Linked DNA regions of Homo sapiens: regions 2, 3 and 4 are each linked to region 1. The links come from fine-mapping of genetic effects on gene expression. A gene starts in region 1. Each other region holds a variant in brackets. All regions are shown on one strand. Distances are between the middles of the regions. Region 1 holds the start of RTN4 (reticulon 4). Region 2 overlaps EML6 (EMAP like 6). Region 3 has its middle 42 kb from the start of RTN4. Region 4 has its middle 20 kb from the start of RTN4.

Region 1 (2,685 bases):
TGGCTCGGTTTAGCTGGTGGGGAGCAGTCCACATCACACCCCGGGGAGCTGGGCGGTGGCAGGACTTTACCAGAACTCTCTCCTTCCCATTTCTCCACGCACCACACCACTGGAGGCGCTCTCCCTTCACTGCGGTTGGGTCAATGTGGACGTTTTCCACTCGGCCAGCTCCCCACGAGCACAGGAGGAGGGGGAGGGGAAGCGCAAAGGGGCCACCCACGCCAGCCAGGAGGTGAGGAGGGAGCCCGGGGCAGAATGCAGGCCAACAGACCCGCAGCAAAACTGCACCTTTTCCAAAGGAGCAACCCAGACGGGTAGACAAAAGCACCTCCTAAAAATATCTGGGTGCCAAGGCCTTTCCTTCCTCACCTCGAAGCCCAACCAACCCGATAAATCCACAACCCTGGCTCTCGGGTATATACCCGGCTCCTACTACGGGTGGGTGCCTAACTTCCGAGAATCCGTACGCTGGGCATCACACAGGGTGAAAGTGGGAGCCGGGAGCGGTGCACGTGTTCCCCGAAACCAAGACGGACAATAAGAACAAACCCGGGCTCCAAGGGCCGCCCCACCCTTCTCCCCGCGCTTCCAACCAGACGGGGCGCCATCGCCCCGAAGTCCGCAGACAAAGCGCCCTCGGGGCGGAGAGGAGGGACCAGCCCAAAGCATCTGGGGCTGCACACAAAAGAGGGAGGGGCGCGAGGGGCGGCGCGAAGCGAGAGGTCGCGGCACTCACCCACTGAGCCCGAGGAGCCCCTGCGCTTGGGCGCGGCCGGGGTGGAGGGGGGCGCGGCGGGAGCCGGGGCTGGCGGGGTCCACACGGGCTCTGCCTGGGGGCTCACGCTGGCCGGGGGAGGAGGGGGAGGCCGGGCCGGAGGCTCGTCGTCCTCAGGGAGCTTGGAGGGCGAGACTGCGGCAGCAGACAGCGGGGATGGCGCGGGCACGGTCGACGACACCGGGCTCGGGTCCCAAGACGGCTGCCGCTCCGGGGCGACGGGGGGAGCGGCCGGCAGGGGTCCCCGGGGCGCCGGCGGCACGAAGTCATTTCCGAAGTCCATCAGGGGCGCGCCGGCGGCAGGGGCGGTGGGCACTGGGGCCGCGGACAGCCCGGCGGCGGGCTTCCTCTCCAGCACCTCCAGCTCCTCCAGGTCTTCGTCCTCGTCCTCCTCTTCCTCCTCCTCTTCTTCCTCCTCGTCCTCGGGCTCCCTCACGAACTGGTACTTGAACGCGGGCTGCGGCCGGGGTGGGCTGTCCGAGGACGAGACCAGAGGAGACTGGTCCAGGTCTTCCATGGCTGGAGGGTGGAGATGATGCTGCAGCTGCTGCCGCCGCCGCCGGGGCCGCGTCTCAGAGCCGCGGGCGGTTGTGGGGGTTGGGGAGGACTGAGAGGGGCTGGGCCGACTGAGCCGAGGGACCTACTGTGGTGACGGCTCCCGGAACAATGAGACTGCTCCTCCTGCCTCCGCGCCGGTGATGCGCCACCCGCCCTGTCCCCACTTGCCGCCGCCGCCCAGATGAGCTAGGAGTGAGGCCAGCGGACTCTCCGCCCAGTTTGGCGTGACTCACCCTCCCCAGGGGAGGGCAGGGACTGGCGCGGGAGGGAGAGAGCCAATCGGCTACAGGATCGAGAAGATAGGCGACCAGCCGGGCCAACAGAAAGGGAAGGAGATGAAAGTGGGTGGGGACTACGGCACTTCCTCTCTCTTACCGGCTGGGATTGCGTTCAATGGGCGGGGCTGAGAGCTGGGAGCTCCACCCCCACTTTGGGTAACCGTGAGTTGGGGTGGGGTCTTGGCCTTGCCCGCAGCTGGCGTCCGTATGTCGTTAGAGCACTGGGAAAGGGGGCGGGCTGCTGGCTGGGAGGGGTCGGCGCGGTTTCTGGCGCGCCACCGGAAGGGCGTTATCCTGGGGGAACTGAGAGTGGAAACTTTCCTCCCGGGAAAGGAAGAAACCCGACTGGAGAAAGGTATTAGCGGGACTGGGAAGTGGGCCCTAAGGATTTTTAAAGATTTTTGAAATAAAAGATTATTTGTTCACTCAAAGTTCCAAACTACATCACTACTACTACCACCCTAAAATAAGAAAAAAATTGTTTTTTGACAGTTAGGCTCACTCAGTCTAAACCGCAGCCCCCGAAATTGGGAGGAAAACAGCTGTGCTGAATTAACTAGGGATCTGGGGCCGACCATTTGAAAGTCTGCTCTTCTTCCAAAGAGAGTTTGGGGCCTTGCCTGCTGGACTCTTACATGGTAAGAGAGTGAGTCACCCAAAGAGAGAGGCAGCGGGGAGACAGGAAAGTGGAAATACAAAGATGCCTTGGAAAGCTAATTTGGTTCACGTTACATTTCAGTCACCTTAGGTTCATGAGTCAACATTTCGGATGATTCAGGCTTTCTGGGAGTCAGGAAGCCCCATAGTCATTGGTTTGATATGCAGGAATAAGCATGATCCCCATTCCACTTTTTATGAGGCTGGAGAGTTTAAAGAGAGTAGTTGCAGAACATCTTTGTAAGAATCAGGATCCTTTTATCTTTCTGATTTACCTTTCAAAAATATTCACTGCATGCCTACTCTGGAGGCCCTGGAGAGAAGAGGATAACCTGCTTTCAAGTTGCTCAAAGTCTAAATCTGTGCTGTACCTGACAGGTACTGGCTACTTGTGGCTACTGATTGAACACTCGGAAT
Region 2 (2,685 bases), 80 kb before region 1:
CCCCATCTCCAGCCTGCTGTGCTGGCTACTTCTGGCACTTATAGCCCTTGAGATAGTACCGCCAGCAGCTCCCTGTGAAGTGCTAACACCCCTTCAAAGCAGCACCAACCCAATTGTGAACAAGCTAGGAGTAAAAGACGTAAATGAATTGGTCACCCCAATGCAGGGGATACAGACTTGTTTTAATATAAAAAAGAAGTGGCCTTAACCGTGCAGGGCTTGCAGGCCTTTGTAGGCATGGGAGCATGCTGTGATCCCTGGTTCTGTGCTAAACACTCAAAAGGGCTCTCTGACTCAAGTGGAGGTGATAAACCTTTTCAATAGTAACAGGAGAGAGTGTGATATCAAAGTGCCAGAAGTCCTCACGGACCAACATTTAGCACAGACATTCAAACTGCTGAAAGAACCAAACAGAACTCAACTGAAAAAAACAGACCTTTTAAGAAAAGCAATAGATCTTAATTTGGTGGCAAGATCCCTGGTTTACCTTTTGAAGTCAAAATGTTCAATACATCACCCGAGCTTGACTTTTGAGCACTTGGCAAGATTGTTTTTTGCCACTTGACACAAGTATGATGTCCAGCTATGCAAAATGACTGTTTGATCTGCCTTTTCAGTGTATTTGTGTGGCGATGTCTGTAAAATGCCAGAAGCCTCTTATGTTATTGCTGCTGCTGCTACCAGCCAGCAACTGCAGAGGCCATGCTGAGGTGCCTCCTTGCCACCAGCCGTTGGGAAATGCCTACCATGCTGCCCCGGATGCACAAGCTCAAAACGCTGCAGAAGTTACACAACTGCTCCCATAATCTGGACTCTCCAAAACCGTGATGCCACGAAGGAAGGTCAAGTTTTAAAATGTTAAAGACTGCTTGCCTCTGTTCCTGAGACTAAACAGTATACATACTAACTACATTGACAAAGAAATCCTATCTGATAATGTAGCCCGCTGACGAATTTTGAAGCCTCGGTTACCCTAACCAATATGTAGCTTTTAATTTGCATCAAAACTTTTACAAAGATGTTTTGCTATTGTTTCTATATACTTCAAGAATGTTCATTTTTACAAATAAGTTGAACAAGACAGCCTAAGTTAGATGCACCGAAGTACTAGAAATATCGCTAGCCTCTGTTCTCCAGTTTAGCTTTCAAAACCAAATGAGCCATGTATAAAGGAGTTGAGAAACTTAATTTTTAAATGTTTCATTTGCAGAGTTTTATATCCATTAAGTGCCTTTGAAAGTTTCCAGTTGTGTGGGCTGCTGTCTCACCTCCCACCAATTTCTCCTTTCTCC[A/T]TATGGTGCTAAAACCTCAAAGCTGAGGAGGGCTGCAGGACCCTTAGCAGATTCAGTGTGTCACCCTTGTCCTGTGTTCACGCCAAGGCTTCCTAAATGAAAGACATCGGTTACCTGCTTATGGGAAGGTGAGCAGCAAAGGAATTGAAGTTCGGGACAGGGTAGAATTATGGGTTTTCATTGTGTTTCATGCCAAACCCACAAAATCCAAAATAGAATTCAAGTTAAACAAACTTCTACTACAAAATGGAAGGGGAAAAAGGCTCAGGAAGGTCTATGAGAATGAGCTGACTTATCTCGTTAAATCTTAAGATAAATGAGGGTAACCCAAGGCTGCACCTTGGTGTACCACCCTGAGTGGAGTTGAGGTGACTTCATTTGATTGCTTCAGGCGAACTATATAGGTCAAGTCCAGATTATAAAAAAATTATCTGCAGAACAAATTGTAAACCCAAGGAATAGCTGGTAAATCAAAATTATAAAGTGAGTTAGAGTTCCTTGGAGTTGGTTGTATGACGGAATATGACTTGGACAATCTTTACCAGAAGCCATCCGTAAGCCCCTCAGTCACACTTTCCATGTAGCTGACCAGTGACTACAGGATGTGGCTGACAGTGCTCACTGAAAGGAGAGTTGGTGCGGGACTGGTGGTTCTGAGCACATAGACGCCTATTAGTCCTTCTGGTCAGTGAACGAAAATTCTAGACCTACAGTTACTGGCTACTTGCATTTGTCAGTTTAGAGAAAAGGTAAAATGAGGCATTTTCAATTGTAGAATAGACTAACATTTACCACAGAAGTGCTTCAGCATTCTAAATGGATTAGATCACTCATTAAGCTATTTTTATATGCCAATTTACTAATGCCTTACATCAATCCACTAATAGGTTGTTGGGCCCGCAGTAGAGTCCCTATGCAGTCCCAATTCTGTTTTCTGTAACCATGTGACTGGTGATGCAGAGTGATAACCATGTCTGCCTATCTTGTACTAGACTCTTCATGCTGATCGGATCTTGCATTGAAATAACCATGTGGAAGAACAATGAATCGATTAATGATGACATGTACAACCATATTTAAAGAGCAATAGTGTCCGTGTGTCATGAAAAACTTATTTGTAAACGTTTATATGGTATGATTTTGATTTTATGTATGTTCATAAATCCTGCACTGTATGATATATGTGAGTTAAAACATTGGTGCATGAATTTATTTTCAAAGTATAAAACACATCACTTAAACATTTTATGTGTCAAATAAAATTTGATTATGTAAACACATTTGTTGACTTTTGTTTCCACAGTAAACAAACAAACAGCTGCACCATCAGCTGAAAAAAACCCTTCTAAAAGCACAAGCTACCATTCGCTGGTTGAAGCAGTTTACCCACTGT
Region 3 (2,685 bases), 42 kb after region 1:
AAGTAACTCCCATTTAAAATGGCCAAAAACCAAACTCGGCTCCACCCCCTAAACATGCTTCTCCCTCAGTCTTTTCCACCTCAGTTACCAGCCCCACATCCACTCAGTTGCTCAAGCCCCAAATCTACGAGTCATCCTTGGTTCTGCTTTCTCTCATTCTCTCTATCCAGGAGATCAGCAGGCCTTGTCAGTCCCTCCTCCAAGACACATCCCAAGTTGACATTTTTCAACTTCTCTGCACATCTCCATTGATTCCACCCAAGAAGTCTCAGCCACCAGTCCTCAACTGAACTCCCAGTTTTGCTCAACTGGCTAGAGCAAAAACCTCCCTAACCAGTTGCCCTGTCTTTCCTCTGGCCACCAGTGGCCTTTTCACTACCTGGTGGTAGCAGCCAGAAAGGGGTGTGTCTGTGTATAAATCGGACAGTATGGCTCCACCATTTACAATCATTCATGGCTTCCCATTGCAATCCAAATTCCTCTCTGTGGCCTAGGGGGCCCCACGTGATTGGGCCGTGTTTACCACTCTGACCTCTTTCTTCCTCCATTCATAGGGTGTCATCCACACTGGGCCCTTTCTTCCCACATACACATAAAGCTTCTTGCCTCAGAGCCTCCGTACATGCTATTTTTCTGCCTGGAATGCTTTTCCCTTAAATTTTCACCTGTCTGCCCCAATCCCTAAACTTCTAGCCCCTGCTCACTCTCTACCCTTTATCTTATTTTCCTGTAACACTTACTTGTTGCTTGATTACAAATTTTTCATCTTCCTGTCCTCATTAGAATGTAAGCTCAGGCCAGCTGCAGTAGCTTGTACCTAGAATCCCAGTACTGTGGGAGGCCGAGGCAGGAGGATTGCTTGAGCCCAGGAGTTTGGGACCTGCCTGGGCAATATAGCAGGATACTGTCTCTCCAAAAAGAAAACTTTTTTTAATTAGCCAGTGTATTAGTCTGTTTTCATGCTGCTGATAAAGACATACCCAAAACTAGGAAGAAAAAGAGGTTTAGTTGGACTTACAGTTCCACATGGCTGGGGAGGCCTCAGAATCATGGCAGGAGGTAAAAGGCA[T/C]TTCTTACATGGCAGCGGCAAGAGAAAAATAAAAAAGATGCAAAAGCGGAAACCCCTGATAAATCCATCAGCTCTCGTGAGACTTACTCACTATCACGAGAACAGCACAGGCAAGACTGGCCCCCATGATTCAATTACCTCCCCCTGGGTCCCTCCCACAACATGTGGGAATTCTGGGAGACACAATTCAAGTTGAGATTTGGGTGGGGACACAGCCAAACCATGCCAGGCTTGGTGGCACATGCCTGTAGTCTCAGCTACCTGGGAGGTTGAGGTGGGAAGATTGCTTGAGTCCAGGAGTTTGAGGCTGCAGTGAGCTGAGATGGCACCACTGCACTCCAGCCTGGGTGACAGAGTGAGACCATGACTTAAAAAAAAAAAAGGAAGCTCAATGAAGGGAGAGATTTTTTTTTCTTTTCTTTTTTTTTTTTTCGAGTTGGAGTTTCCCTCTTGTTGCCCAGGCTGGAGTGTAATGGCATGATCTCAGCTCACCGTAACCTCCACCTCCTGGGTTCAAGCAATTCTCCTGCCTCAGCCTCCCTAGTAGCTGGGATTACAGGCATTCACCACCACCCCTGGCTAATTTTGTATTTTTAGTAGAGACAGGGTTTCTCCATGTTGTCAGCCTGGTCTCAAACTCCCAACCTCAGGTGATCTGCCCACCTCGGCCTCCTAAAGTGCTGGGATTACAGGCGTGAGCCACCGTGCCCGGCCCGAAGGAAGAGATTTTTTATCTCCAGCTCCTAGAACACTACCTGGCAGAAAAAAGTGCTCAACACAAACTTGTGGAATGAGTATACCTGAGTTTCACTTGTTTCCTGCTTGCCCTCTGTCAGAGGCCACACCCAATTGTGGCACCTGGTAAAAGCCTCACTCATTAGAGTTTTGTCATTTAACTCCTTCCTGTAAGCCAGGTAAAACTGACCACATATATATGTAGATGCCCTTTTCCAATTTCAGTTTGGGGGCTCCCCTGGAGAAAGCAGAGGCCTCACACTAGAGCTAGAAGCGGCCCCAGGAAAATTCACATGGGGTGAAGTTTTATTCTTTCAAAGTAGCCAGTTTTGCCCCTTCGCATTTTCTTCTTCTTCACAGACATTTTCCCAATGGGTAAAACTTTTTTGTTTGATTTTAAAAATTCACTTTTTCACTTATCTATTCAGTGTTGCTTACTGAGTTCTGACCACTAATAAAAATAACCATTGTGTGTGTGTCTATGTGTGTGTGTACGTGTGTAAAATATCAGAAGATAAGAGCCTTGCATTGTTCTAAGAGCTGCTTGAAAATGTCTGTGTTTTGATAGCTTATGATGCACATTCGTGGGCCAGCCAATTATAGTGACAGCTCTTTAATGAAGAAATGTCATACACATTAATATAGAATTTGTATTTGCTCTTAGTAATACCTGTAAGTGCCTAGTTCAACAGTTTTTGTGGTTGAAATGCTAAAAAATACAACTGAAATGCTGTTGAACTCTAAATGGCTAAATGCATGTATACCTGTATGTTGTTTTATTTACAAACACATAAACATATGTGTGTATTTTATACTTAAATAATTTATTCTATATATATTTAATTTATTTTATATATATATAGAATAAATTAAGCAATAAT
Region 4 (2,685 bases), 20 kb after region 1:
AAAAAACCTAATTAGACTGGTTTAGTCCAGTCGTCTTCAAGAAATCAATTGCTTAGAGTATGAAAGTTCTAACCTTTATCAGTGAGATAAAAGTAATGCTTCTCATCCATGTCAGCATTCTTCTGGAAAATAAAATCCAAAATTACCTGGTCCTCTGTAACCGCCCCCCTCAAAAAAATCAGAAAGCCCCTCTAATACTCTAAGTGTTCCTCTTAGTAAATTCAACTCTGCCATTGTCTAAAAACAAACTGAAAATATCTGCATGGCCAGAGACTACTATCCACAGGGTTTATTGCTATTACACAAATAAGAGTTACAACTTGTAGGTGAGTATGGAGTATAATTGTTCACCCTCCTTTCAGAAGTAGAGTTAACTTCTAGGAAAATTCACCTGTGAGTTTCCTCTAAGGCACTAAGGGAAGGCCTCTGCCTCCTCCACCCAAGCATTCTTCCAAAATTAATAATAGAAGCTGGCAGATAAGCAGTCTCCCAGAGAGGCCCAACCGACATTCCTGGGGGCACCTGCAGGGCCTGCACCTCCACCCATCACCCAATGTCCACGAAGTTCAGTGTTTTCTCTAAGAGAGCAAGAAAAAGAGACCACAGTGGAACTGAACCATGTCAATTTGATGTCAAAGAGGAAAAAGAGAGAAACACAGGTACATGAATTAAGCCAAATGCTGGCTGGAGAAGTAGGGATGATGACAACTGGGGAAAGGATTGAGAGAAGGGATGAAGAATTAAGAGAAAGCAGCAAATGTGGGGTAAAAGATGGCACATTATTGAACTCCCTTTTAAAATGTCTTGCCCAGTGGTTTCGATGGCAGAGACTAATCATAGGGCAAACTGATAACATGCCAAGCACCATTAACCAAGGCAAAGAGACAGTCTAAAGCAGGGGTTCCTCAACCTCAGAACAATTAAAACTATGAGCTGGATAGTCTTTGTTATGGGGGCTGTCTTGTGCATTCTAGGATGTTTAGCGGGATCACCAGCTGCTACTCACTAGATGCCAGTAATACTCCAGTAATACACCCTTCCCCAAATCCTCCCCACCCCCCCAAACAAAAGGCCAGGCACAGTGGCTCGCACCTGTAATTCCAGCACTTTGGGAAGCTAAGGCAGAAGGATCCCGTGAGCTCAGGAGTTCAACATAGCGAGATCTTGTCTCTACTAAAAATGTTAAAATATTAACCAGGCATGGTGGCTCACACTTGTAGTCCCAGCTACTCAGCAGGCTGAGGCCAGAGGATCACTTGGGCCCAAGAAATCAAGGCTGTAGTGAGCTATGATCATGCCATTGCACTCCAGCCTGGGTGACTGAGCAAGACTCTGTCTCAAAAAAAAAAAAAAAAAAAAAGAAAGAAAGAAAGAAAAATAAAATACTCCCTCCCATTTGCAATAACCAAAAATGCCTTTGGGAAGAGGGATGAGATTAGGGGTGGGGAGCAAAATTGACTTTGGTTAAAAATCACCGGTCTATTATTATCTCAGCATATAAAAATCTCCACTCCTATCAAGGACAAACAGCTGTTTTGATT[T/TTTGTTGTTG]TTGTTGTTGTTGTTGTTGTTGTTTGTTTTTTTGTTTTTCGTTTTTTTTGACAGAGTCTCTCTCTCTTGCCCAGGCTGGAGTACAGTGGTGCGATCTCGGCTCACTGCAAGCTCTGTCTCCCGGGTTCACGCCATTCTCCTGCCTCAGCCTCCCGAGTAGCTGGGACTACAGGTGCCCACCACCACGCCTGGCTAATTTTTTGTATTTTTATTAGAGATGGGGTTTCACTGTGTTAGCCAGGATGGTCTCAATCTCCTGACCTCGTGATCTTCCCACCTCGGCCTCCCAAAGTGCTGGGATTACAGGCGTGAGCCACCTCGCCCTGCCTTTTTTTTCTTCTTTTTTTTTTTTTAATGGAACTTTGAAACTCCAAGCCCAGTCTAAGTTCCTGGAAATGGTTTCAAATTATGCTTAGCTTCTACAATAATAATTTACTGGCCACCAGGGGGTCTCTTGCTTGTGATCTACAAGACAAAATGTCTGGCACAGTCAGTCATCCTGGGTCCTATTACTACCTTGCAATTAACTCTTTGTGTCTCAGTTTCATCATTTCTCAAATGGGAGCAATAGTACCTTCCCTACCTTCTGTACGGGTGATTATAAGGAAACAACGAAAGGAGATGGAAAAGTGCTTTGAAAGTTAAAAGAAAATGTAACCAGACATAACTAAGTCATTACGGTCTTTTCAGAAACTGGAAACACATTAACAAACAACCCTGTGTGTTTGATGCCCTTTTCTACTTCTAACTACATAGAATTTGTGTTGCTGGTATAGGAGAGGCACCATTTGCCATCAAAAAAAAAAAAAAAAAAAAAAGCCAGTCATTTACTTCTGCTAATGCAGAGAATATTTGTGATCTGGTTCTATGAAAAATGCTGCAGGCGATCACTGACTTCAGACTGTCAATTTATAGATTACCCCTTTTTAGCAAACCATAGCCCATACCCTTCACTGATGTCCCCAGCACTGCCGCAGTGCCTGTGGTTGTCAAAAAACCACAAACAAAACCCCTGAATCTTTTTAGAGATTCTATGGATTTATTAGTGAAGGGAGGGAAAAAGTTGTAAAGATCATAAACAGTTTAGGAGAGAGCAGTTCAAATTACTTTGTAAAGTAAAGATGTTATAATGACTGGGTTAGCT

The links. PIP is the estimated chance that this variant, and not a neighbour inherited with it, causes the effect.
Region 2: its variant is fine-mapped to the expression of RTN4 in tibial nerve (GTEx, PIP above 0.99). The same link has a PIP of 0.9 or more in esophagus muscle, fibroblasts, subcutaneous fat and sun-exposed skin.
Region 3: its variant is fine-mapped to the expression of RTN4 in whole blood (TOPMed, PIP above 0.99).
Region 4: its variant is fine-mapped to the expression of RTN4 in monocytes (Quach 2016, PIP 0.95).

The regions. Positions count from the first base shown.
Region 1 is chr2:55,049,009-55,051,693 of GRCh38, forward strand. RTN4 (reticulon 4) reads right to left here and starts at 1,443. Exons shown (of 9, transcript NM_020532.5): 1 at 737-1,443. The coding sequence starts at 1,292. RefSeq lists enhancers at 449-1,261, 1,224-1,273 and silencers at 764-883, 1,024-1,083.
Region 2 is chr2:54,969,454-54,972,138 of GRCh38, forward strand. EML6 (EMAP like 6) reads left to right here. Exons shown (of 42, transcript NM_001039753.4): 42 at 618-2,572. The coding sequence ends at 642. Among named protein-coding and RNA genes, the nearest start is that of RTN4, 80 kb to the right of the region's middle. The variant A/T (reference allele first, on the strand shown) is at 1,293.
Region 3 is chr2:55,090,751-55,093,435 of GRCh38, forward strand. It overlaps a transcript of RTN4 not described here. Among named protein-coding and RNA genes, the nearest start is that of RTN4, 42 kb to the left of the region's middle. The variant T/C (reference allele first, on the strand shown) is at 1,070.
Region 4 is chr2:55,069,207-55,071,891 of GRCh38, forward strand. It overlaps a transcript of RTN4 not described here. Among named protein-coding and RNA genes, the nearest start is that of RTN4, 20 kb to the left of the region's middle. The variant T/TTTGTTGTTG (reference allele first, on the strand shown) is at 1,542.